Homo sapiens: one gene and its partners. The protein of the gene in region 3 interacts with the protein of the main gene of each other region in a biochemical or structural test. Each region holds a gene or a part of one and is shown on either strand. Other genes may lie near its edges. The genes, in order: RCC1, HIPK2, HMGA1, POU2F2, KAT2B, NPM1 and METAP2.

What was found.
Region 1: the proteins of HMGA1 (region 3) and RCC1 interact in far-western blotting, tested with the Homo sapiens proteins (one study listed by BioGRID).
Region 2: of the proteins of HMGA1 (region 3) and HIPK2, one has a biochemical effect on the other in vitro, tested with the Homo sapiens proteins (one study listed by IntAct).
Region 4: the proteins of HMGA1 (region 3) and POU2F2 form a complex in vitro, tested with the Homo sapiens proteins (one study listed by BioGRID).
Region 5: of the proteins of HMGA1 (region 3) and KAT2B, one has a biochemical effect on the other in vitro, tested with the Homo sapiens proteins (one study listed by BioGRID).
Region 6: the proteins of HMGA1 (region 3) and NPM1 interact in far-western blotting, tested with the Homo sapiens proteins (2 studies listed by BioGRID).
Region 7: the proteins of HMGA1 (region 3) and METAP2 interact in far-western blotting, tested with the Homo sapiens proteins (one study listed by BioGRID).

The regions. Positions count from the first base shown.
Region 1 is NC_000001.11:28,512,543-28,516,042, reverse strand, and holds part of RCC1 (regulator of chromosome condensation), read right to left. Parts: intron 1-3,500. UniProt on the Homo sapiens protein: Guanine-nucleotide releasing factor that promotes the exchange of Ran-bound GDP by GTP, and thereby plays an important role in RAN-mediated functions in nuclear import and mitosis.
Region 2 is NC_000007.14:139,561,070-139,564,998, forward strand, and holds the end of HIPK2 (homeodomain-interacting protein kinase 2), read right to left. Parts: 3' UTR 501-3,929; downstream 1-500.
Region 3 is NC_000006.12:34,235,451-34,239,672, reverse strand, and holds the start of HMGA1 (high mobility group protein HMG-I/HMG-Y), read right to left. Parts: upstream 2,801-4,222; 5' UTR 2,792-2,800; coding exon of another isoform or gene 2,710-2,791; exon of another isoform or gene 2,470-2,709; coding exon of another isoform or gene 2,356-2,469; intron 2,259-2,355; coding exon of another isoform or gene 1,293-2,258; intron 883-1,292; exon of another isoform or gene 716-882; intron 1-715. Other genes in the region: translation initiation factor IF-2-like, read right to left, coding at 1,293-2,258, 2,356-2,469, 2,710-2,791, 2,943-3,098, 3,417-3,427. UniProt on the Homo sapiens protein: HMG-I/Y bind preferentially to the minor groove of A+T rich regions in double-stranded DNA. It is suggested that these proteins could function in nucleosome phasing and in the 3'-end processing of mRNA transcripts.
Region 4 is NC_000019.10:42,115,447-42,118,946, reverse strand, and holds part of POU2F2 (POU domain, class 2, transcription factor 2), read left to right. Parts: intron 1-1,514; coding exon 1,515-1,697; intron 1,698-1,941; coding exon of another isoform or gene 1,942-2,238; intron 2,239-3,500. UniProt on the Homo sapiens protein: Transcription factor that specifically binds to the octamer motif (5'-ATTTGCAT-3'). Regulates IL6 expression in B cells with POU2AF1. Regulates transcription in a number of tissues in addition to activating immunoglobulin gene expression.
Region 5 is NC_000003.12:20,123,946-20,127,445, reverse strand, and holds part of KAT2B (histone acetyltransferase KAT2B), read right to left. Parts: intron 1,542-3,500; coding exon 1,333-1,541; intron 24-1,332; coding exon 1-23. UniProt on the Homo sapiens protein: Functions as a histone acetyltransferase (HAT) to promote transcriptional activation. Has significant histone acetyltransferase activity with core histones (H3 and H4), and also with nucleosome core particles.
Region 6 is NC_000005.10:171,394,349-171,397,848, forward strand, and holds part of NPM1 (nucleophosmin), read left to right. Parts: intron 1-3,500. UniProt on the Homo sapiens protein: Involved in diverse cellular processes such as ribosome biogenesis, centrosome duplication, protein chaperoning, histone assembly, cell proliferation, and regulation of tumor suppressors p53/TP53 and ARF.
Region 7 is NC_000012.12:95,494,652-95,498,151, forward strand, and holds part of METAP2 (methionine aminopeptidase 2), read left to right. Parts: intron 1-305; coding exon 306-487; intron 488-1,352; coding exon 1,353-1,447; intron 1,448-3,500. UniProt on the Homo sapiens protein: Cotranslationally removes the N-terminal methionine from nascent proteins. The N-terminal methionine is often cleaved when the second residue in the primary sequence is small and uncharged (Met-Ala-, Cys, Gly, Pro, Ser, Thr, or Val).

The DNA of each region.
Region 1 (3,500 bases), on a different chromosome or scaffold from region 3:
CCCAGCTAATTTTTGTATTTTTAGTAGAGACGGGGTTTTACCATGTTGGCCAGCCTGGACTTGAACTCCTAAACGTCAGGTGATCCACCCGCCTCAGCCTACCAAAGTGCTGGGATTACAGGCGTGAGCCACCGCGCCTGGCCATTTTGTGTATTTTTAGTAGAGACCGGGTTTCACCATTTTTGCCAGGCTGGTCTGGAACTCCCGACCTCAGGTGACCTGCCCATCTTGGCCTCCCAAAGTGCTGGGATTACAGGCATGAGCAACTGCACCTGGCCTTTATTTTTATTTTTTTAGTTTTGTATTTGTATTTTTTATTTTATTTTGAGATGGAGTCTCATTCTGTTGCCCAGGCTGGAGTGCAGTGGTGCAATCTCGGCTCACTGCAACCTCTGCCCCCTGGGTTCAAGCAATTTTCCTGCCTCAGTCTCCAGAGTAGCTGGGATTACAGACACGCACCACCATGCCCGGCTCATTTTTGTATTTTTAATAGAGACAGGGTTTCACCATGTTGGCCAGGCCGGTCTTGAGCTCTTGACCTCAAGTGATCCACCCATCTCGGCCTCCCAAAGTGCTGGGATTACACGTGTGAACTACTGCGCCCAGCCCCAGTTGTTTGTCTCAAGAGTCTCACTCTGTCATCCAGGCTGGAGTGCAGTGGCAGGATCTCGGCTCACTGCAACCTCTGCCTCAGCCTCCCGAGTAGCTGGGACCACAGATGTGCACCACCATGCCCAGCTAATTTTTTTTTTTGAGACGGAGTCTCACTCTGTTGCCTAGGCTGGAGTGTAATGGCGTGATCTCAGTTCACTGCAATCTCTGCCTCCTGGGTTCAAGCAATTCTCCTGTTTCAGCCTCCCGAGTAGCTGGGATTACAGGCGTGCACCACCACGTCCAGCTAATTGCCCATCTAATTTTTGTATTTTTGGTAGAGACAGGGTTTCACTATGTTGGCCAGGCTGGTCTTGAACTTCTGAGCCTCAGCAGTCAGCCTGCCTTGGCATCCCAAAGTGTTGGAATTACAGGAGTGAGCCATCGCAACTGGCTGATATGGAGGTTCTGGCTGTAATAATGTACTGTGGGTTTTATAACATATATAAAAGTAAGACACATGACAATATCAAAGACTATATAGTGAGAAATGGAAGAAATATTTATTTATTTTTTCGAGACGGAGTCTCGCTCTGACCTCGTGATCTGCCTGCCTTGGCTTCCCAAAGTGCTGGGATGGATTACAGGCGTGAGCCACTGTGCCCAGCCGGAAGATTGTTTTTTTTTTTTGAGATGGAGTTTTGCTCTTGTTGCCCAGGCTGGAGTGCAATGGCATGATCTCGGCTCACTGCAACCTCTGCCTCCCAGGTTCAAGCAATTCTCCTGCCTCAGCATCCCGAGTTGCTGGGATTATAGGCATGTGCCACCATGCCCGGCTAATTTTGTATTTTTAGTAGAGACGGGGTTTCTCCATGTTGGTCAGGCTGGTCTTGTACTCCCGACCTCAGGTGATCCGCCAGTCTCAGCCTCCCAAAGTGCTGGGATTACAAGTGTGAGCCACCACACCAGGCCGCCAGAAGGTTTTTTTTTTGTTTTTTTTTTGAGACGGAGTCTCGCTCTGTCGCCCAGGCTGGAGTGCAGTGGCGCGATCTTGGCTCACTGCAAGCTCCACCTCCTGGGTTCATGCCATTCTCCTGCCTCAGCCTCCCTAGTAGCTGGGACTACAGGCACCCGCCACCACGCCCGGCTAATTTTTTGTATTTTTAGTAGAGATGGGGTTTCACCGTGTTAGCCAAGACGGTCTTGATCTCCTGATCTCGTGATCCGCCCGCCTCGGCCTCCCAAAATGCTGGGATAACAGGCGTGAGCCACCGGGCCCCGCCTTTTTTTTTTTTGAGACGGAGTCTTGCTCTGTTGCCTAGGCTGGCACGATCTCAGCTCACTGCAACCTCTGCTTCCAGGTTCAAGCAATCTTCTGCCTCAGCCTCCCAAGTAGCTGAGACTACAGGCGAGCACCACCACACCTGGCTAATTTTTTTTTTTTTGTATTTTTAGTAGAGGCGGGGTTTCACCATATTGGCCAGGCTGGGGAAGATTCTTATACTACAAGTGAACTGGTTTAATATCAATTGAATGTGGACTATTGTAAGTTAAAAATGTATAATATGGCTGGGCATGGTGACTCATGCCTGTATTCCTAGCACTTTGGGAGGCCAAGGTGGGAGGATTGCTTGAGCCCTGGAGGTCAAGACCAGCTGGGACAACATCATGAGACCTTGTCTCTACAAAAAATACAAAATTTAGCCAGCCATAGTGGCACATGCCTGTGGTCTTCACTACTCAGGAGACCGAGCTGGGAGGATGGCTTGAGCCCAGGAGTTCCAGTTTAAGGCTGCAGTGAGTCATAATCTTGCCACTGAACTCTGGCCTGGGTGACAGAGTGAGACCCTGTCTTAAAAAAAAAAAGTAAATAGCCTAAACACTCCAATTAAAAGACATAGACTGTCATACTGAAAAACCCAACATGTTACCTACAAGAAATAAAATTTTAAAATAAGGCCAGGCACGGTGGCTCATGCCTGTAATTCTAGCACTTTGGGAGGTCAGGGCAGGCGGACTGCCTGAGCTCAGGAGTTTGAGACCAGCCTGGGCAACATGGTGAAACCCCATCTCTACTAAAATACAAAAAAATTAGCCAGGCATGGTGGTGCATGCTGTAGTACCAGCTGCTCCAGAGGCTGAGGCATGAAAATTGCTTGAACCTGGGAGGCAGAGGTTGCAGTGAGCTGAGATCGCATCACTGCACTTCAGCCGCGCAAACCCCATCTCTACTAAAAATACAAAAAAATTAGCTGGGCGTGGTGGTGCGTGACTGTAATTCCAGCTACTCCGGAGGCAGAAGTTGCAGTGAGCTGAGATTGTGCCACTGCACTCTGGCTTTGGCAACAGAGTGAGACTCTTGTCTAAAAAAAAAAAAGAGGCTGGGCGCGGTGGCTCACACCTGTAATCCCAGCACTTTGGGAGGCCGAGGCGGGTGGATCACAAGGTCAGGAGATTGAGACCATGGTGAAACCCCATCTCTACAAAAAATTAGCAGGGCATGGTGGCAGGCACCTGTAGTCCCAGCTGCTGGGGACGCTGAGGCAGGAGAATGGTGTGAACCCAGGAGGCGGAGCTTGCAGTGAGCCAAGATTGTGCCACTGCACTCCAGCCTTTGGAGACGCAGTCTCCAAAAAAAAAGAAACTAGCAAGGATAGATTTGAACAACACTAATACAACAACAATAATACACTTTCAAGTAGCCCATAGATCAAAGAATAGAAAAGGAACTCAAAAATATTTTGAAATGAATTAAAATGAAAACAAAACATACCAGAATTTGTGTGTTGTTAACAGTATCTGGAGGAAATTTATAGCACTAAATGCCTACATTAGAAAAAAAGAAAGGTCTCCAATCAATGAGCTCAGCTACTAGCTTAAGAAACTAGGAATAGATGAGCAAACTAACC
Region 2 (3,929 bases), on a different chromosome or scaffold from region 3:
GCCCCACTCAACTGCATGGGAATTGGTAGTAATGTGATCTCAAGGCCCCCCACCTCTCTCTGCAAATGTTCAATGCAGTGGTGGCTTCTACACATTTCCAGAGCCATTAAATAATCTCGGCCCGGCGCAGTGGCTCATGCCTGTAATCCCAGCACTTTGGGAGGCCGAGGCAGGTGGATCATCTGAGGTCAGGAGTTCGAGACCAGCCTGACCAAAAAATGGAGAAACCCCATCTCTACTAAAAATACAAAATTAGCCGGGCGTGGTGGTGCATGCCTGTAATCCCAGCTACTCGGGAGGCTGAGGCAAGAGAATCACTTGAACCTGGGAGGCGGAGTTTGCAGTGAGCCAGGATCGTGCCATTGCCCTCCAGCCTGGGCAACAAGAGCAAAACTCCATCTAAATAAACAAACAAACCCCAAATATGTTACTTGTAACAATAACCTCTTCGCTTTTATGACAGGTCTGGTTCCAGGATAAATAAGCATGCCAGGCAGGTGTACAGTGATTTCAAACAGTTTAATGTAATTCCAAGACAAAGTGTGATTACATTTCTACACATATACAATATGCATATGTGAGTTTACAAATTTTAATTAATAAGTCATTTCACCTCGGAGACCGAAAAAATGATCAAAAAGAAACTATGAGTAACAAGCTATAACATAGTTCACCACAATGGGACCCCCCCCCCTTTTTCTCACCCTACAGTTAGTAATATTACAATTAAAATAACTATATTCTTCTATATTTTTTCTGTTAAAATCATCTCATAAATTTACAATGCTATTATTAGTTTCCAAGACTAATATAAATTCACTCCATTTTTCTACAACGAAAATGATTAATTTAGAAGCACACGACGTCATGATGAAAAACACAAGCATTTTAGTAGCAAGGACTTGATCAGTTAAGAATTAGTTTTCTTGTAAAACATTCTAAAGCCAAGTAAAATATCCATTCTTATAACATACCTATAATATGAGACTAAGGAATAGGTTACATATAGGTCTACAACACATTGGTTTGTCTTTAAAAAAACAAAAGTAGACATTTATAAATAAAAAAGAGGGACAATTCACATAGGAAAAAGAGGTACACGAGAAAATACTGTTGCACGCAATAATTTTCACACAGATTAACATGGATTAACACTTTTTATTACAGAAACCGTACGGTGAAGGAACACAACAGACCAGGGCTTTCATAGGGTTATTGAGATTGAGCTGAGATGACCTGGGAGAGAAAGATCTAGGTGAGATGACCCTGGGGAGGGAGCCACGTTCCTTGGACCTGGTGACTTAGTGTCGCCGGGTCTCCTCTTCCCTGTTCTCATTTTGGGGAGTGAGTCTTTCTATCCAGTGTCCTGAATTCATGAGCAGTTGAAAGGTAAACATTTCTGCAGATCCATTCTCTTTCTATCCTAATGGATACCATTTTTGGAAACGTGACAGAGTATCAGAGGCTGCAGCTCAGTACACGTGGTCAAAGCAAAACGGGATGGAAACTTCCAGTCACTCTGATTTGTTGCCCCCGTCACCCACTGATGCGCTTGAAGCTGGGACCCAGTGAGACAGCAGCAGCACCCTACAGGGCCTGCTGGCTCTGCCGTGGTGAGGTGGATGACAAGGGCCCGGCGCCACGCCTCAGCCCCATGTGTGCGGAGTGGCCTGGGACACAGCCCATGCACGTCCAAGACACCAGTCTTGACTCCGACCTCTAAAGAGCTCCTTCTCCTCATCTGTAAAGCTATACTTCTCCTATCCAATTTGGTTTGATATATATACACAAACATATATATCAACATCTATCTCTATACAGTGATTCTACTAAATTAGAAATTCTGCTGCCCCAAAGTATGACTTTCTTGTCTATTTCATTTGGTTAAAAAAATGCACACACAGAGGATGAAGAGATGATTTGGGGGCTAGAGATGACTGTGCCCTGGAAAGTCCATGGAAGAAGCTTGAAGTGAGCAGGAACACAAAAGGGAGGAGAGCAGAAACGGGGGACCGACTGACTCAGGGCAGCGCTGACGGGAACATCTGCTTGGGGTGGGGCGGGGCGGGGGTGTGCTCTCTGTTCCATTTGTTAGTTACAGGAAGCTACCAAGGATGCACATGGTCAAGTCACTTTCTACTTCCCAAGTTCCTCCTTATAACCTGAGCCAAACAATTTCAACAATGACAATCCATTGCCCCTTCAGCCCAGCAGGCGACTCTGACAGGGAGGTGTGACCACCAGTCTCAAGGCTGAGTGGGGCCTTCTTGCTGGCTCTCGCGCTTTCTGGGAGTCCTGGGTGCCTTGGCCCAGGGCAGTGGTGACAGCAGGGTGGAGGCAGAGGTGGCCCCGGGGACAGTGACCCTATATAAGGAAGGGGGCGGTGCCAGGAGAGATTCGTTTGGAGATTGGTTACAAGGAAGCGAGGGAGAGCAGAGGCAGAGCCCTTTTTCAGATACAACATACTTACTTTTCAAATGAACAAAAGGCAATTTCTATGTTTTAAAAATATAAGCCCCAAAAACAATGACACAAAATTCATTTGGTTAATTCATGTAAAGGAAAAAACAGCAACACCACCACACAAACAGGAAAGTGGGAGTATGATTAGGAGGGGTGAGATGAAAACTATTTTACAGTAACATTTCCACCAAAAGACTGTCCTAAGAACACGCTGTCAATACAGTTCACAGGGAAAAAGCAAATGTGGTATTTTTTTGTATTTTTTAAAAGCTCCCTGGTCCCAGGTGTTTTGCAGTTTTCAAGGTCTTATCTGCTAAAGGAATGCCCTTTAGGTCACAGCAGGTCCTCTGCAGTTTGGTGGTGGCACAAGAGAAAACATAAAAGAAACCAAGACTCAGGGAAACTGCCATTCCCCCAGTCTGTTTCTGCATGACAGTGGGGCCCATTCCTGTCTCGAAGCATCTTCTTGTTCCAAATATGATGTCTGTTTAGAGTGGGTCTCAATGGACCAGGCTGAGCTGCCCCTCTGTCTCTGCCTCCTCCTGCTCAGCCCTGACCATCTCTGAGAGGATGCTAAGGTCCCCCTCCCACCGAACTAGACTTTGAGTCTAAGCTGGACAATGAGTAAAACGTAAACATAGCCTTTTACATTGATTTTGCTTTTAAGGGGAAAACGAATAAATGACAGCAGATATATGGAAAACCCAGCCAGCGACCATGGGAATAGGGGTATATGGTCCTCCCCTACAAAACGCTGATCAAAATATCACCCCCGGCCCAGAAGTAGCAGCTGTGCCTTCATGGTCACCTGAATCCCAGTCTCTTCTACTGCCTGGTGCCTGGAAATCAGTGGATCTATTAATAAGTTAAATATTCAAATCAAGACAAAAATCAATGAACCAGGTTATCTGTTCTCAATGACTCTTCCAAGATGTCAGAGAGAAGGCCTTGAAGACAAGTGTTTAGACGACACGCATGAGACCTTCGCATCTGGCCCGGGCTGCGGACTCACACCTTTTCCCTCCATCTGGATTGCCTTTCATGTTCTCTTGAGTTCACGTGGAAAGTAATAATCCAGAGGGAAGTGCGCATGCTGGACTACAGAAGAGTCTGGGACAACACACTTGCCTTGGGGGAGACACAACCTCCAACTAAGAGGCATTCACTGGGGTTTGCGGATGTCAGTTATAAACAGAACTTTTCTTTAAAAAGTACCAGTCTAAATGTAAACTATAAAACACTTTAACTATAAAACGTAGCCAGAAATATGCTTAAGTATCCACAGTCAATTGTTTAGTTTACTCATTTAAAATGTGACTGTTTTGATAGCTTAGAAGGCTAACAGCATTTTACAGTAGCTAAAAACATATATACTTAACATGTGCATTTGAACATCGCATTTGAGTACAACACACAAAGAATAATCTCTTCCTTGGTTTAATTTTTGTTGTAAAGATGAGCTATTT
Region 3 (4,222 bases):
AGATGGATGAGACGCCGGAGGCCTAGGCTACACATTTTTCCAGTAACCAATCCCTGCCTGCCATGGTAAGGGGTGGGACAAGCGGCTCCACTTCTGAACCCCTCTCAATCTGTAAGATCAAGGTAATTATAAGGTACCTGCCTGAACTACCTCCTGACTGCTTCAAGGATCAAACTAGGTAATAGTTTAGAAAAACTTAAAATAATAGAAAGAAATCTTCACTCTAACCAAAATAAGAACTAGACCATTTGAAAATGATTTATGGGCCAGGTGAGGTGACTCATGCCTGTAATCCCAGCACTTTGGGATGCCAAAGCAGGAGGACTGCTTGAGGTCAGGAGTTCGAGACCAGCCTGGACAATACGGTGGGACTCCCATGTCTAATTTAAAAGAAAAAAAAAAAAGAAGAAAAAGAGTTTTTACCCCAATGAGAGGAAAAAAACATTTTTGCAAACTTGTGATTTCTAGAGGGCCCAGGACCTCCATTTTCAAGCATCAAGAGACCCTCCAGACAGCAGGACTTTGGTAATTATTCTATCTTATAATGTTTCAGACTTGGAGACCCTTTTAAACAAGGTGGTTGGTGATTTATCCTGCTCCGTCATTAGTGGCTTGGCCTGCTCTGCAATTACAGGCAGTGATTAGAATCTTATATTACACCACAGGTCCCCCTTCAAACTAAACATCAAAATTAATCAACTAAACGAGTGCTGACCTCATATAAGGTCTGCCTGGGGCCCCCTCATCGAGGGGGTTCCAGTTGGGCGAAGCCAGTCCGGAATCCCAGAGAGCCTGGCCCGGCCTGCCTGGAGATCTTGGCGGGTCTCCCTGGAAGCTCTCATACCATCTGGTGCCTCCCCCCACCTCTTGCTGCTGGGGACCCTTTAATCCCCTCAGCCAACCCCCCACGAACTAAATGAAGGCCCGAGGCCCTTTCCAGTGAGGCCAAGAAACGTTCGTCTTTTCCACCTGTTTCTGAACATCAGAGGCCTGTCTTGGAGGAACTACATTTAGGGCCTAACCCCAATCCCTCACTTTGTAATAAGCCCGCTTGGGCCTCAAGCCTGTCTCCTCCATACACTGTGCATGCAAACTGTGCTCCTCAAATACTTAAGGACTCTGCAGGAAAGGCCCTAGGAAATTATCTTGGGGGTTCCCTTGTTTTCTTCCCCGTCCCCCGTAAAAAAGTAGCCCAGAGAAGCCTTGAGTTGCCTAAGGTCACACAGCAAGTTGGCGAGCAGGAAGAAGTAGGTTCCCGGAGACCCTTTCAACCCGACACTTTGCCTACCCGCCTAGCGGCTAGGGCTAAACCCCCGAGGCATCAGGCTCCAGACCCGGCCCGAGGGTGACTCTGCAAGTGTCTGCGCCCGGCCGTTGCAGGCCGGCCGGCGGGACCCGGGGCCAGGGCGCGCGGGGGGAGGGGCGCAGGCCGCTCCTGCAGGCGCGGGAAAGCAGCGCACCCCGACCGCATGCACCGCCACGCGGGTGCACCCGGCCCCACTTCCTGCCAGAGGGGGCACCCAAGCCCGCCTTGGGGCAGGAAACCTGGCGCGCGCGGGCGCGGGGGAGAGGAAGAAAGCCCCCTCCCTCCGTCCCCTCCCCGCAAAATAAAGCCCCAGAAGAAAATAAAATAGAAACGGGGAGTCAAAGGGACTAGTTCCAACAGAGCCCAGCAAAGCAGCGAAACCAGTTTGTGGGGGCGGAGGGCAGGCCCGGCCCCTGGGGCTGAAGAGGCGCGGGCCAGGCCAGAGGTGGGGTCGGGGTGAAGCCCCAAACCCAGGCCCGCGCTCCGGCCTCATCTGCGGAGGGGGCGCGAGAGAAAGGCCGAGAGGGCGTAGGGCCGAATTTGGGGGTTCCTCCCCATCTCCCTCACTTCCAGAACTTCCCTGAGCTGCGGGGGGCGCCCGACCCCCCACTCTCCTGCCGCGCCGCAGCCCGTGTCTCTCCCCGCCCCTCACCCGGGCCCGGGCTCGGGCTCGGGCTCCGGCTCCAGCGGGAGCGGCCGCCGCGCGAGGTGCGCCGGGCTCCTCCGGGCTCCGCCGGGTGCACAACTCGCGCTCGCCGCAGCTGCGCGCCCCCTCCCCCACCGCGCGCCTTTCCCGGGTCCCCGCCCCCCGCAGGGCGCCCGCGGCGCGGGGGAAGGGGTGCGGGCGTCCTCCCCGCGCCGCCGGGCCCCGCCGCCCGCCCCCGCGCCGCGCGGCCCTCCCCCGCCGCCGGCTCGCGCCGCCCCGGCCTGGGAATAAAGCCGGCGGCGCGCGCTGCAGCCCCGGGCGGCTCGCAGGAGGGGCGACGTGCGGGCGGGGGCGCGGGCGCCCCCCTCCGCCGCCGCCGCCGCGGGCCCCGGGGACGACTCACCGCGAGCTCGGCCGCCGGCCTGCGGTGCGCGCTCCGGGTTGCCGGGAGCGGCGGTGCTGGGCGCTGAGGACCGGCCTGGCTCCGCCGCGGCCGCCGCTGGTAGCAAATGCGGATCTGAAACCGGGAGAGAGCAGAGGCGCTCAGAGACCGCCGCCGCCGCGTGCTCGCCGCCCAGGCCCCCGCGGGGTATTTATGTGTCACAGCCAGGCGGGGGGACAAAAATATTCCCCCTCCCCCGAAGGATGGCGAGGGGCAGGAAGCTGGGCACGGCCCGTGCGCGGCCTCAATAAATAAATAATTTAATTAAATTATAGATATAAAAAAAAGAAGCCACCGGAGCGGCCGCGAACTCACGCCTTCTTGGAGCCGCGCCAGCGCCAGAAATAGCCCCGGCTCGGAGTCCCAATTAGAGGAGCGCAGCACCGGCTCAGGGGAGCTTAAAAAGAGCGACCCAGGGGCAGGGGGGACGGGCCCGCCCGCGCCAGCCGTGTCACTCAGGGGGCGGGGCCATGCAAATGAGCCCGGGGATTTAAAAGGGCGGCCGCCCGCCAGCCGCCGCCGCCGCTGCCGCGCGGGTGGGTGCTGACGGCAGGGAGGGGCGTGTGGGAGGCCTGGGCTGCGAACTCGAGTCGACCGCCCACTCCTCGCAGTCCCGGACGGAGGAGGTGTGGGAAGGCACGCGCAGAGGAGTCACGAAGGAGCTTCTGGCGGGGGGTGGTGACGGGTGGCGGTATCCTTCCTCCCTGGTACAGGGGTCCCAGGGAGAGTCACCTCTAGGGGCTTCCAGGGCGTGTGGGCCCGGCCCCCCCCCCAGGGCGTGTGGGGGTGGACGGGGGTCCACGCGGGCCCAGGGGGTGAAGAGAAACGCGCTCGTTAGAGAATTCCGCGGCCTACACGCCGCCCCCTAACTAAAATAGAGAGATGGTAGATTTCCCCTGGGCGGACAGGTGTCAGCATGTGCCTTTCAGTGTCAACCCGCGTGTGGCTGATTGGTGAGATACAAGTCTTGTGAAATTCAAACGTGAAACTTGTGAAATCCAAAGTGTTTTATTAATGGCCACCAGCGAGCCATGATCAAGGTGGAGCCTTCCAGCGAAACCAACGATTGGCTCGTTGGCAGGTACACCCAAGGGAGGCTTCATACCTTGAGGTGACTTAGATGGTGTTCTGGAGATACGCAGGCCCACTTGGGGACCTGGGCCCTTCCGTTGGGACTGTAAATAAAAATAAAAGGTGGGCCAGAGGTCGCCTGGAAGCGCTTTGAGGGCAGGGGCCGAGCACGCAGGCCATCTCCGCCACGCCTGGCCCGCCCGGCGCCCGGCTTAACAAAGACTTGTTGCACCGAGCGAGAAGGAAGCCAAAGGGGAAGATGGCGGGGAGGGCGGTGGGGGAGGAAAGGGCGCAGGCGGAGCGGCGCGCCCTGCAGGCCGGCCCGGGGCCTTCTCGGGCGCACCTCCCGCGCCCGGTCCCCGAGGCGGCCTTCCACACCTCCTGTGATGCAGGGAATTGAAATGCGCTCCAGTGACACACGGCTGTGACTCATGTTTTTCTCTGCTCCCCTTCTTCCTCCCCGGTCAGCCGAGGCCCTGGCCCAGCCCCCTCCTCAGGGGGCGAGCCGGCGGTGGAGGGGACGCAGGAAAGCCCTGGGCCCGGCGCGGAGGCGGGGTGGGGAGCGGCGGGCTGGGCCTTGCAGTTGCAGGAATGTGGCAGGAATGTTTCCGGTGGGGGTGGGGAGCGGGCGGGGGGTGGGCCCAGCCCCCACCCGTGCGGCGGGAAGCGCTCGGGGCCCGGGCAGCACGTGCTTGACCGGGTGGGGGCGGGGGCGCCTGGGCGGGAAGGCGCCAGGGGCCGGGAGCGCGGGTTCAAA
Region 4 (3,500 bases), on a different chromosome or scaffold from region 3:
TCTATTATTTGGCCTTTCCTTGGCCTCTGTTTGTCTCTGTCCACATTCCAAATATCACCCCCCTGCCAACACACTGTGTCATTTTGCCCAAGTTGCTTTCTGTCTCTGGACTTCCTTTTACAAAATGGTGTTGGGCTATCAGGCTGAAGGATAAACTCACTGTCCACTTTAGGCCTGAGGGTGTGTGATCCATCAGGCCATGCCTTCTCCCACCACTGTGTGTGCTTCAGCCAACAGGCCTTTCAGCCAACAACTGCTGTTGTCTGGCTTTTTACCTAGGAATGGAGGAGGCCAGGGTGGCTCTATGCTGGTCTGTTCTGTGTGTATGGTGCAAGGTGTGTCCATATCATATTCAGAAAGACATGGAGAGGCTTGGCAGACCTCAGGAGCGGAGGCTGAAGCCTGGTATTTCCTGGGCCACATCTGGCTTGTCCACAGTGCAGGACAAATGCTGTGCTTTGCTTATTATGCCAGTATTTTTGTTCTAGATTTTGAAAAGAGTGGCCAGCAGGAGCTGAGTAGGAGCCAGATAAGATTTCCACTTAGGCAGGCGCTCTCTCCAGCCCACCTCCATCCACCCCTACTCCTGTCATTCATTTGTGCCCATTTCTGTAAGCATCTGACTTTGTAGCCCAGGTTCCAAGGTGGTGGTTTTTCTTAGTACCTGAAAACCTTTTCTTCCAACAAAGTCTTACTTCATTGGACAAATAAGGGATGTACCTGGCTAGGTGCAGTGGCTTATGCCTCTAATTCCAGCATTTTGGGAGGCCAAGGCAGGAGGATCGCTTGAGCCTAGGAGTTCAAGACCAGCCTGGGCAACATAGTGATACCCTGTCTCTACAGAAAAATTTAAAAATTAGCCAGGTGTGTGGTGGGCACCTGTAGTCTCAGCTGCTTGGAAAGCTGAGGTGGGAGGATTGCTTGAGCCTGGGAGGTAGAAGCTGCAGTAAGCTGTGATCATGCCACTGCACTTCAGCTTGGGCAACAGAGTGAGACCTTGTCTCAAAAACAAAAAGAAAAAAAAAGCAAGAGAGATGTACCTCTGTGTGATACAGATGAAGGGTGTGGGACCCAGAAGCCACTTATTTGACCTCCCAGGTGCCCAGTGGGAGTATTTTCCTTTTTTTTTTTCAGAAATGGGGTTTCACCATGTTGGCCAGGCTGGTTTCAAACTCCTGACCCCAAGTGATCCGCCTGCCTCGACCTCCCAAAGTGCTAGGGTTACAGGTATGAGCCACCGTGCCCAGCCACTCTTTTCCATTTTACAGACAGGAAAACTGACTCTCAGGAGGGGAAAAGTGCTCTGCAAAGGCGACTTCTGTAGGGAGTTTGGGTGCAGGTGTTGTGTTAGCCCTATCTGATTGATGAGGAAACTGAGGCCAGAGGAGTGGTTTGAAGCTCCCAGCGGTCAGTGCAGGACCACAGACTGCACCCTCATGTCCACACCCCAGTCTGCTCCTCCTGTGCCAGCCTGATTGCCATTGCCACACACGTGCCCTCTCTTTGGTTCACAGGTGGGCATTCTCTCTGGCCTCCACTTAACATTCTGGGGTCCCGGACCCTGCCTCTCTCCCCCCCAGATCAAGGCTGAAGACCCCAGTGGCGATTCAGCCCCAGCAGCACCCCTGCCCCCTCAGCCGGCCCAGCCTCATCTGCCCCAGGCCCAACTCATGTTGACGGGCAGCCAGCTAGCTGGGGTAAGTACTTGGGGAAGGATGGGGACGAGGGGACAAACCAGCCACCCCTCATCTGTTACAGGGCTAGTGGATGAACTGTTCCACCAAGGCCATGGCCACTCTCTCACACCTGCCTCTTGCCCTCTTCTGTCCTCTAGGAGGTCTTGTCCCCTTACTTGCTTGGCTTAGGCACTAACCCCTCTCTGCCTTCTCTGCTCCTCTTCAACCCCTTGCTCCAATTCCTGCTGTCCCCGACACCCCGCAGCTCACGGCACTGATGCCAGCTCAGCAGCAGCTCCTCCTGCAGCAAGCCCAGGCCCAGCTCCTGGCCGCCGCCGTGCAGCAGTCCAGTGCCGCCGCTGCCGCTAACGCCGCTGCCGCCGCCGCCGCCGCCTCCGCCTCCTCCTCTACTTCCTCCTCCTCCTCCTCCTCTGCCTCCTCCTCGACCTCACAGCCCCCAGCCTCCTCTGGGGGGGGTGACCTGCCACCACCACAGCCTGCCAGCCAGCCCCCTGGGACCCCACAGCTCACCTTGTCCCAACCCATCCAGCTCACAGCACAGGTAAGGGCAGCCACTGGGGACCAGGCTCCCTGCAGTGAAGGACATGCAGAAACAGTGAGTGTGTGGGAAGGGGCTGACTGGTCCACATGGACTGTTCTGACCACCAGCCACATGCCAGGCAGTTCCTAGCAACCCTAGGAAGCTTTGGAAGATGTTGCTGTCCCATCTTACAGAGGGGTAAAGTGAGGCTCACAGGGAGGAATATCCCACATCATAATCCTCCCTCTGGTGGTGTGTTGGGGGCAGTGCTTCCTGTGCATCTCGCTGGGAGTTCACAGCCTCCTGGGAGGTTGAGATTGTTGTCCTCAACATACAGGTAAGGAAACCAGGAGTCACTCTCGTGAATGGTACCATGTGGGTACAAAACAAAAGGTTAAGAATAAGAATGAGTGCCCTACCCTCATCGTGTCCCCTGGCTTATCCAACAAGATGCTCTTTCAAAAAAGGGGCCCGTGATCTATGAATTAGGAGGTTCTCCATCACCTCCCTGACTCTGGAGCTTTTGCTGGTCCATAGTTAATCATGAATTAGTGGCTGTCTCAGTTTCCTAGGGCTGCCGTAACATAATACCATAAACTGGGTGGCTTAAGGCAACAGAAACATATTGTCTCCAACCACAAGTCCAAACTCAAGGTATCGGCAGGGCCGTGCTCTCTCTGAAGCCTCCCAGGGAGAATCTGTCATTGCCTCTTCTGGCTTCCGATGGTGCTGTCAATCCTTGGTGTTCCATAGCTTAGTAGATGGCTCACTCCAATCTCTGCCTCCTCTGTCGTCACATGGCCATCTTCTCTCTGTGCACCTGTCTCTGTATTCAAATTTTTCTTTCTTGTAGGGACACTAGTCATTAGTTTAGGGCCCACCCCATTGACCTCATTTTAACTTGATTACATCTGCAACCCTATTTCCAAATAAGGTCACATTTACAGGTACCAGGAGTGAGGGCTTCCACATATCTTTTTGGGGACACAATTTAACCCCTAACAGTGGCCAACAGAGTTCCCATAAGGACAGCCGGGGGAGCAGAGTGGGAGCTGAGTAGGCTTCCTCTTCCGAAGGGCAGCTGTCTCCAGCCCACTCCTGTCCACCCCTTCCCATGTCACCCATTCATGTTGTCTGTCTGGTTTTCACCCATTCATGTTGTCTGTCTGGTTTTCATAAGCCTTAGAGCTGTGGCCAAGTTTCAGGGCAGTGAAGGTCGTGGGAAGCCCTACAGCAAAGCCACCTGTTTAACTTCCCTTAGCCTGGCGTTTCCCTCAGTGACT
Region 5 (3,500 bases), on a different chromosome or scaffold from region 3:
TTAAAGCAAGGGTTTTGTGTTTCCTGAAAGAATAAGATTATGTCAAAGTTTTACCTATCCTAGTTATATAAATATACTTTTTGGGGTGTTCCTTATTAACCAACTAAGAAAGAGGGACATGTCCTAAGTTTCTATAGAAACTTCCTTCATGTAGCCCCTATCTCGCTAGACCATCCTTTTATCTGAACTTTTTAGAGCTAGGTCGCCTGCACAAGATGTCATCAGCACTCCCATCAGAACAAAATACCAGTCACCTAAGAAGTGCCTGAGGTTTACAAATAGAGAACAGAGTATGTGCAGAGGTGCTCTGGAACTGGCACAGCCAGTGCCAAGGAGGGGTCAGGGAGAGCAGGAAGTCATGGACAAACATGGTATGTGTCTCTGAAGAGTTAAGTCTTACTCCAAAATATTACAGAAACATTATGAAAAAGAATTTAAAATTTACATATACAATTTGCAAAATTCCGCATTATGGAATCCTTCCCTCTGTCTAAAGCATCACTCTGAATTGTCACAGGCATGGATCACAGTCCCCATAGGCTACTGGGCTATGTATGTTAAAATAAATTCAATTAGAGAAGTTTAGTTCTTTAGGGTTTCGTGGGTTTTTTTTTTTTTTTTTTTGAAATGGAGTTTCGCTCTGTTGCCCAGGCTGGAGTGCAATGGCACGGTCTCGGCTCACCACAACCTCCGCCTCCTGGGTTCAAGCAATTCTCCTGCCTCAGCCTCCCAAGTAGCCGTGATTACAGGCATGTGTCACCAGGCCTGGCTAATTTTGTATTTTTAGTAGAGACGGGGTTTCTCCATGTTGGTCAGGCTGGTCACAAACTCTCAACCTCAGGTGATCCTCCCACCTCAGCCTCCCAAAATGCTGGGATTACAGGCATGAGCCACCATGCCCGGCCTAGTTTTTTGTTTTTTTTTTTTAAGCAATGGATTTTCAAAGTTAACCTGTCTTATATCCCAATAATTGCCCACAGACCTGGGCAATAATGGCACCTAGTTAAGATACCAAAACCAATATTTTGATTATGAAGAAAGCAGAACATCTTAGTGTTACATTCTCTCACTGCTATAAAGAATGAAGCACAGGAGAGTCATCAGCAATGTAAAATATAAAGTTTCATCATCATTAACAAGAAAATTTGTAAATTGTTGAAAATTACTCTTAGCACTTTCAGACATGAAAATCAGCTTGGTGAAGCTCTGTATCCACAGCAAGACAGGTGCAGTAGTATTCGGTGGATGACTATGGCTGACTTTCACTATCTAAGCAGTTCCTCTTTCATTTAAAAAGGAAATAAGGAAGAAGGAACAGAAAGTACCACTTACGGGTCAAAGACGAGCCGTGTGATGTATTCTTTTGGCATTCGGGGCAGCTGGTGGGAGAAAACGTTCTGTAGGCCAACCAGCCACATCAGGATCTTCTTGTTTGGTTTCTGGTTGAGGGAATTGCCAACCACGTGAAATTCAATTACACCCCTGCGCTCTTCCAACCTTGCCGCCTCATCCCTGGCCGAGTGTGCTGACAGAAAATTGGTCTGAGATGCAAGAGACAGGAAAAAATTACACAGAGCTATTCTCTCAAGACAGTGGGGATGGGACACATCCAAGCTTCTCATCTTTGTTCTAATAAGATACACATTTGTGGATTTTCAGAGTCCTAAATACACATGTGTGCACACATACACACAGAGACACATACACATACAAGTTATGAAGACAAGACAGAAAAGGCAGGTAAAGCATTTTGAGAAATTGGAGTATTATATGTGTACACGGATGATATTCAGTGTAGATTAGGGGCCAGCAAAGTTTTCTGTGAAGGGCCAGATAGAAAATATTTTAGACGTTGTGAGCCATAAGGTGTTTGTCACAACTACTCCTTCTTCTGCTATAATGCAAAAGCATCCACAGACAATATGTTAAAGAATGGGTGCAGTACTGTTCCAATAAAACTTTATTTAAAAATACAGTAAGCAGACAAAATGTGGCCTGTGGGTTATAGTTTGCCAACCTCTGGCTTCAAGGAATCCTCTCCAGCTGAGCTTTAAGGACCCTTGAGATGACAGATTCAAATTCTCATTACAGGCCCAATAGTAGCACTCATGTATATATTCTTTTTTTTTTTTTTTTTTTCTGAGACGGAGTCTCGCTCTTTCGCCCAGGCCAGACTGCAGTGGCGCTATCTCAGCTCACTGCAAGCTCCGCCTCCCGGGTTCATGCCATTCTCCTGCCTCAGCCTCTGGAGCCTGCCACGGCGCCCAGCTAATTTTTTGTATTTTTTAGTAGAGACGGGGTTTCACCGTGTTAGCCAAGATGGTCTCGATCTCCTGACCTCGTGATCTGCCCGCCTCGGCCTCCCAAAGTGCTGGGATTACAGGCTGAGCCACCGCGCCCGGCCTCATGTATATATTCTTAACACCTCTTTTTAAAGAACAGTTTTCTTTCCAGAGAATATCTGTTGACCTACACTCAACCATAGCTGGAAGCACAACCATGTGCCAGCACTTATGCTCCCCATCTTATTTAATCTGCCTAGTGGTTTGCAAGTAGATGCTCCACAAACAGCTCTTCAAGGAAGGAAGGCCCTAACTGGTGACACTTCATCTCATTAGTCCAGAACTGGCTATCCAGGTAACCAGGTGCCATGCTAGTCAACTTCAAGCTACCAACATATGGAACAACCAGCTCACAAAACTCCTGAAAATTTAACAATTTTCTTGTGCATTCCAGTACAAGCCAGCTCTAGTACACTACTAAATATTAATATATCCAAAATATTTTCAAACATGTGACTGCATCCTGATGTAGTTTGAATGTGTGACCCCTCCAAATCTCATGCTGAAATGCAATCTCCAATGTTGGAGGTGGGGCCTAGTGGGAAGTGTTGGATCATCAGGGCAGACCCCTCATGAATGGCCTAGCACCATCCCCTTGTTGATGAATGAGTTATTGCTCAGTTAGTTCATATGAGATTTGGTGGTTTAAAGGGGTCTGGCTCCTCCTCCTCACTCTCTTGTTCCCTCTCTCACCATGTGATGTGCCTGCTCCCACTTCACCCTGCACCATGAGTATAAGTTCCCTGAGGCCTCCCCAGAAGCTGAGCAGATGCTGATGCCATTCTTGTACAGTCTGTGGAACTGTGAGCCAATTAAAGCTCTTTTTTAAAAAAATAAATTACCCAGTCTCAGGTATTTCTTTGTAGCAATGCAATAGACTAGTACAAATCCCCATTTTATAGCTGAAAAAAACCTAAACTCAGCTAATCTGTAATGTTACTAAATCCCTAAAAAACTATAGTCTTAAGCCCTCACAGACTGGACATCTAGGAGGAAATGGAAAGATCAATTTTAGGAAGAGATTTTTCTATTACAACATTCTGGTTCTCTGAAGTATCCTCAATGTCATAAAATAAATATTTAAAGAAACATGACAAATTGAAAATTAACACTGTAATATAATCTCCAAGCCATTTCTTCATTTCCTGGAAGCTGTCA
Region 6 (3,500 bases), on a different chromosome or scaffold from region 3:
TTTTTAATAGACATGGGGTTTCACCACGTTGGCTAGGCTATTCTCAAACTCCTAACCTCGGGCGATCTGGTCACCTCATCCTCCCAAAGTGCTGGGATTACAGGCATGAGCCACCGTGCCCGGCCACTTTTTTTCTTGAGATGGTGTTTTACCATGCTACTCAGACTGGACTTGAATCTCTGGGCACAAGCTATCCTCCCCTCTCAGACTATGAAGCAGGTGGGGTTACAGGAGCATAACCAAGCCCAGCTTGTTTGGTTATCACTTTTAAGAATATTTCTCGTTAGTAAGAATTGAAATACATTCCAAGAGAAGAATGGGAAACAGGCTAAAAACACAAATTAGAAATAGGGATGGTATGGTTCGGATTGGTTTAGTCTGATTTTGAGTTACCTTTGTACAAGTTTATAAAATAAGTGTTTAATAGCATTCACCGAGGCTCGGGGACAAGCAATCCCTTCCAGAAAGGCTTTGGAGTAGGACCTGATTGTAGTATTGACCCTGTTGGGGCTTTGGAAGATTTCCTTTTTTAAAAATTGATATAATTAGGCCAGGCATGGTGGCTCACGCCTGTAATCCCAGCACTTTGGGAGGCTGAGGTGGGTGGATCACTTGAGGTCAGGAGTTCAAGACCAGCCTGGCCAACATGGTGAAACCCGGTATCTACTAAAAATACAAAAATTAGCTGGGTATCGTGGTGCCTGCCTATTGGTCCCAGTTACTTAGGAGGTTGAGTCAGGAGAATTGCTTGAACCTGGGAGGTGGAGGTTGCAGCAAGCCAAGAATGCGCCACCGTGTTCCATCCTGGGCAACAGAGGGAGACTCCCATCTCAGAAAAATGGGTATAAATTCATGATGTAACCACAATGTAATTTTGTTTGTCTTTAAGTTGGGCATTGATAGGAATGAAAAGTGTAGATATCAAGGTCCAAATCAGTACCTGGTTTTTTTTGTGGGATTTTTTTTTTTTCGGCAAGTCTCGCTCTTGTGCCCCAGGCTGGTGTGCAATGGTATGATCTCTGCTCGCTGCAACCTCTGCCTTCCAGGTTCAAGTGATTCTCCTGCCTCGGCCTCCAGAGTAGCTTGGATTACAGGCACTTGCCACCACGCCTGGCTAAGTTTTGTATTTTTAGTAGAGACGGGGTTTCACCATGTTGGCCAAGCTGGTCTCGAACTCCAAAGTGCTGGGATTACAGGCGTGAGCCACCATGCACCGCCGCAAGTTTTCATATAAGTTGAAGAAAGTGTACTAAGGTCTGCATAGTAGTAAAGGATGCCTTGAGGGAAACAAATATTAATAGAAACTTCAGTGGTGAGATGGCAAGGGCCCAGCATAGATAGATGGCAATGAAAATGCAAAGAGGTGCATGAAGGTTCGTTATAGTTACTTAGAAATCTAACCTTTTGAACACAGATCAAAGGGGAATTTGGTTCCTTTTTGAGGATGGAATGGGTATATGGTGTGGGCTCAGATGACTCTTGATTTAAGCAAGAAAGGCTATGTAATGTGCATAGTGCTGATGTATACTATACATAGATGTATGTAATACGTTGATAGTATGTGGCCCTTAAATGTCTTTTTTAATTTTTGGGGAATTTCTTAAGTAAAGCTGAATTTTTTTTTTTTTTTTTGGAGACAGTCTCTGTTGCCCCGGCTGAAGTGCATTGTTGGCTAGGCTGGAGTGCAGTGGTGCAATCATGGCTCACTGTAACTTCTGCCTCCCGGGTTCAAGTGATTCTCCTGCCTCAGCCTCCCAAGTAGCTGGGATTACAGGCATGTGCCAGCATGCCAGGCTAATTTTTTGTATTTTTAATAGAGATGGGGTTTCGCCATGTTGGTCAGGCTAGTCTTGAACTCCTGACCTCAGGTGATCTGCCCACCCCAGCCTCCCAGAGTGCTGAGATTACAGGTGTGAGCCACCACACCCTGCCAGTAAAGCTGTTTTGATAGTAGTTTTGATAGCTATTTTGATAGTAGTTTAATAGACTTGTTTTAACAAATAAGAAAAAATGTTTAAAAAAAGCATTCTCATCTTGTTTCTAGCACAGGGGAGGCACCTGCAGGGATTGGGTTCTAATGCCAGAAACTTGTACTGACAAAATCACTGTTAAAAAGCCACTTGAAGGGCTATTTGTGACAGCTTTTTAAGTTATGATACTTTTTCTAAATACAGCAAATATTTCTTCGGTATTGGAAAGATAGGTGTTTCTTACATGAAGTTGCTGTATTGGGATTTAGAGACCAGTACGTTCAGTTGTTGAATTAAACGTGAACCCCTTGGTATTTGCTAATAGAGACTTCTGCCTGACTTGCCCTCCAGTGACTCGATTTGATTACTCCCCTCCATTGTTTACCTATTAACAGTTCACACCTGTAATCCCAGCACTTTGGGTGGTCGATGCGGGCAGATCACCTGAGGTCAGGAGTTGAAGACCAGCCTGGCCAATATGGTGAAACCCCGTCTCTGCTAACATACAGCTGGGTGTGATGGTGGGCGCTTGCAATCCCAGCTGCTGGGGAGGCTGAGGCAGGAGAATTGCTTGAACCCGGGAGGCGGAGGTTGCAGTGAGCCGAGATCGCACCATTGCATTCCAGATTGGGCAACAAGAGTAAAACTCAAAAAAAAATAGTGTGCAGTTCAGTGGTTTTAGTATGCATAGTTGTGTAGCCATCACCATAATCAATTTTAGAACATTTCATCACCTCAATGAGAAATCGTACTCTATAGGTATTACCCCTCATGCTCTTCAGCTCTAGTCAACCACGAATGAACTTTGTCTATAGGTTTCCTGTCCCTCATATTTTGCACGAATGGACTTCTGTGACTGTTTTCTTAGCACAGTGTTTTCAAGTTTCATCCATGTTATAGCATTATCAGTACTCCATTTATTTATATGGTTGAATACATTGTATGGGTATGTTTGGTTATTCATCAGTTGGTGAGCATTTGAGTTGCTTCTACTTGTTGACTGCTATGAACGCTTGTAGACATGTCATTTTACTTGGATGTACACCTAAAGCAGAGTGGCTCACCCATTGTATTCCCACTAGCAGTGTATGGGGCTTCTGATTTCACTCCAACCTACTGATTTCACTACACCCTCACTTGCCATTATCTGACTCTAATCCTGGTGGTATGAAGTGCTGATTGTGGGTTTGATTGCGTCTCCCTGTGGACTAATAATGAGCATCTTTTCATGTATTCATTGGCCATATATCTTTGGAGAAATGTTTTTGCCCACTTAAATCCATTTACTTCTCTTTGTCTTTACTAAGTTGTAAGAATTCTTTTTTCTTTTTTCTTTTTGATATGATTTTTGTATTTTTAGTAGAGAAGGGGTTTTGCCATGTTGGCCAGGCTGTTCTTAAACTCCTGTCTTCAGTGATCCACCTCCCTCTGCCTCCCAAACTGCTGAGATTACAGCTGTGAGCCACTGTGCCTGGCAAGAATTCTTTTTTTTTTTTTTTTGACAAGTCTCTGTTGCCCAGGCTTGAGTGC
Region 7 (3,500 bases), on a different chromosome or scaffold from region 3:
ATGAACAAATAAGATCAGCATTTAAATTGGTCTAAGTTAGACTCTTATTTTCTAGTAAATTTAGTTAAAAGTGGATTGTGTTTCTCTGACTTTCTAGCAGAATCAAATTCCTTGTCTTCTAAAGATATGCTATTTTCATAGCATCAGAGAACTGTTATTTATTTATATTCAGAAAGTGCTCAGATCATTCCCAGAAGGTATTTAAGGTTTTTAGTAAACTTTCTGGACTTGATGAACTATATGGTATTAATATATAAAAGTAAGAATGTAAAAGTAAACAAGTTCCCTTTGCTTTTTTGTTTTAGTGAAAAGTTGGAAGACTGTTCACGCAAGTTAATAAAAGAGAATGGATTAAATGCAGGCCTGGCATTTCCTACTGGATGTTCTCTCAATAATTGTGCTGCCCATTATACTCCCAATGCCGGTGACACAACAGTATTACAGTATGATGACATCTGTAAAATAGACTTTGGAACACATATAAGTGGTAAATTCTTGCAGAAAATTCCTACCCCAGCCTCCTCCTGAAAAACTAGTTTTTGTCTCTGTTAAATGGAGTGATAAATACTGAACTCCCAAATTTTGTTCTTGCTTCCTCATTTCATTAGGAAAGGTGTGTTGAGGCAGATTTTTAAAAAAATTTTAGTGCACTTATAGGAGAGAGAGGCAGTTGTGACATTTACTTGAAAGCATACTACTAAGTAGAATAAAATGAAAACTGTTGGGTAGTTGAGGTTTATTACCCTTTGTATCAAGGCATGAAAGACATTATCCTACCTTTCTTTAGGTCATTGTTTCATATCTCTTTTATTCAAATAATAACATTTATTTAAAATACTTAAGTTTATCAGCCTTAATATACATGTTTGCTTTTCTGAATTCTCTCCAAAACCTGGTTAGGTAAGCACCTTGTTATCTTACTTACAAGTGAGAAAGCAAGCTTAGAATAAATACTTGCCTAAGGTTTCACTACCTTGGAAAAGTAAAAGTATATTCAGAGCCCTGTATACTTTCTCTGCCCTGCGTTACTATTTCTCATTTCCCTAGTCTTTTCTTGTATTCATTTTGTTTCTGTTTATATGTTTGTATAACTGCCAGGGTGAGCACTGAACTGGTGCTGTCTTGGGGTAATATATACTAACCTTGTAATTCTTTCTATTCTGAATCCTTTATATACTTCTACATTTTGTCTCTTTGATTATGAATGATCTTTGGGTATTTGGAGTGCAGCCTTCATTTGAGCCTTCATTCTATTTTTCTGTTAAACTAGCAAGATTAATAGATTAAATGCTGTAAAGTAGATAAATTGACTAGCTGATAAGTAAAATTAAAAGAGGAATTTTCTCTTTCAGGTAGGATTATTGACTGTGCTTTTACTGTCACTTTTAATCCCAAATATGATACGTTATTAAAAGCTGTAAAAGATGCTACTAACACTGGAATAAAGGTATGTGAACTGTAAGCACCATTTCATTCCCAATATTTTGAGCACTTTAAGGTCTTTTAAACACTTAACAGCATTTAAGCACTTTTAAGGCCTGTTTAAGGGCTTTGGGTAATTAAGAGGAATAAAATTGATCCATTTCCCTTATGGTTTTAAGCGGGTAAGTGTATGATTGTGTACCAAAGGTTGTTTTTTTGTTTGTTTGTTTGTTTCCCTTGAACTTTGCTAAAATTTATTAAAACAGAGTTTGGATCTATTTTTGCCTGTCAGTTGGCAGTGGTTTTTTTGTGGTTCTTTTTTAGAACAATTTTAGGTTCATAATAAAATTGAGCAGAAAGTACAGAGATTTCCCTTATACCCACCCCTCCCCAATTTCCTCCATTGTCAGCATCCCCACCACATAGGTATATTTGTTAAAATCATTTGAACTAGCATTGACCACATCACAATTATTCAAAGTTCATAGTTAACATTAGGGTTCATTCTTAGTAATATACATAAGGGGTTTGACAAATATATAATGACACGCATCTACCATTATAGTATCATACAGAGTATTTTCATAGCCACCAAAATCTTCTGTGCTCAACTGATTCATCCCTCTCTGTCCACCAAACTCTGGTACAGCCCAGCTTTTCCCCACCCACTCAAATTTTTTTTTTTTTTGGAGGGAGGTGCAGTTAAAATAGACATTACATAAAATTTACCATATTAACTTTTTCTTTCTTTTTTTTTTTTTTTTTTTTTGAGATGGAGTCTTACTCTGTTGCCCAGGCTGGAGTGCAGTGGCACGATCTCGACTCACTGCATCTTCTGCCTCCTGGTCTCAAGTGATACTCCTGCCTCAGCCTCCCGAGTTGCTGGGATTACAGGCACGCACAACCACTCCCGGCTGATTTTTATGTTTCTAGTAGAGATGGGGTTTCACCATGCTGGCCAGGCTGGTCTCAAACTCCTGATCTCAAGTGATCCTCCCGCCTTGGCCTCCCAAAGTGCTGGGATTACAGGCGTGATTCACCGCGCCTGGCCATTTTTAAGTATGTTGTTCATTGGTATTAAGTACATTCATAATATTGTGCAGCCATTATCACCATTCTTCTCTGTTTACTCTTCATGTTATAAAACTGAAACTCTATACTCATTAAACAGTAACTCCCATTTTCCTCTTCTCCCCCTACCCTGGCAACCACCATTCTACTATATATGATTTTTACTGCTGTAAGTACCTCATATAGTGTTTGTTGTTTTGTGACTGGTTTATTTCACTTAGCACAATGTACTCAAGGTTCACCTATGTTGTAGCATGTGTCAGAATTTACTTCCTTAAGGCTAAATAATCTATTGTGTGTATATACCACATTTTTGCTTATCCATTCATCCACTGATAGACACTTGGATTGCTCCGATGTTTTAGCTATTGTGAATATTGCTGCTATGAATACGGGTGTATAGATACCTCTTCAAGGTCTGTTTTCAATTCTTGGGTATATACCCAGAAGTGGATTTGGGAATCATCTGGTAATTATATCTTTTTAAACTTTTTGAGTATCTTCTCTACTACTTTCCACAGTGGCTGTACCATTTTCATTCCCACCAACAGTATGCAAGGAAAGGCTCCAATTTTTCCATTTCCTTGCCAACACTATTTTCTGGGTAGTTTTTGTTTGTTTTTTGTTTTTAATCTTTGGAGAAATGTCTATTCAAGTTTTTTGCCCATTTTTATTTATTTATTTTTTAATTAAAAAATGTAGGCCAGATGTGGTGGCTCATGCCTGTAATCCCAGCACTTTGAGAGGCCAAGGCGGGTGGATCACGAAGTCAGGAGATGGAGACCATCCTGGCTAACATGGTGAAACCCCGTCTCTACTAAAAATACCAAAAAAAAAAAATAGCTGGGTGTGGTGGCGGGCGCCTGTGGTCCCAGCTACTGAGGAGGCTGAGGCAGGAGAATGGCGTGAACCTGGGAGGCGGAGCTTGCAGTGAGCCGAGATCGCCCCACTGCACTCCAGCCTGGGCGACTGAGCGAGACTCCATCTCAAAAAAAAAAAAAAACAGT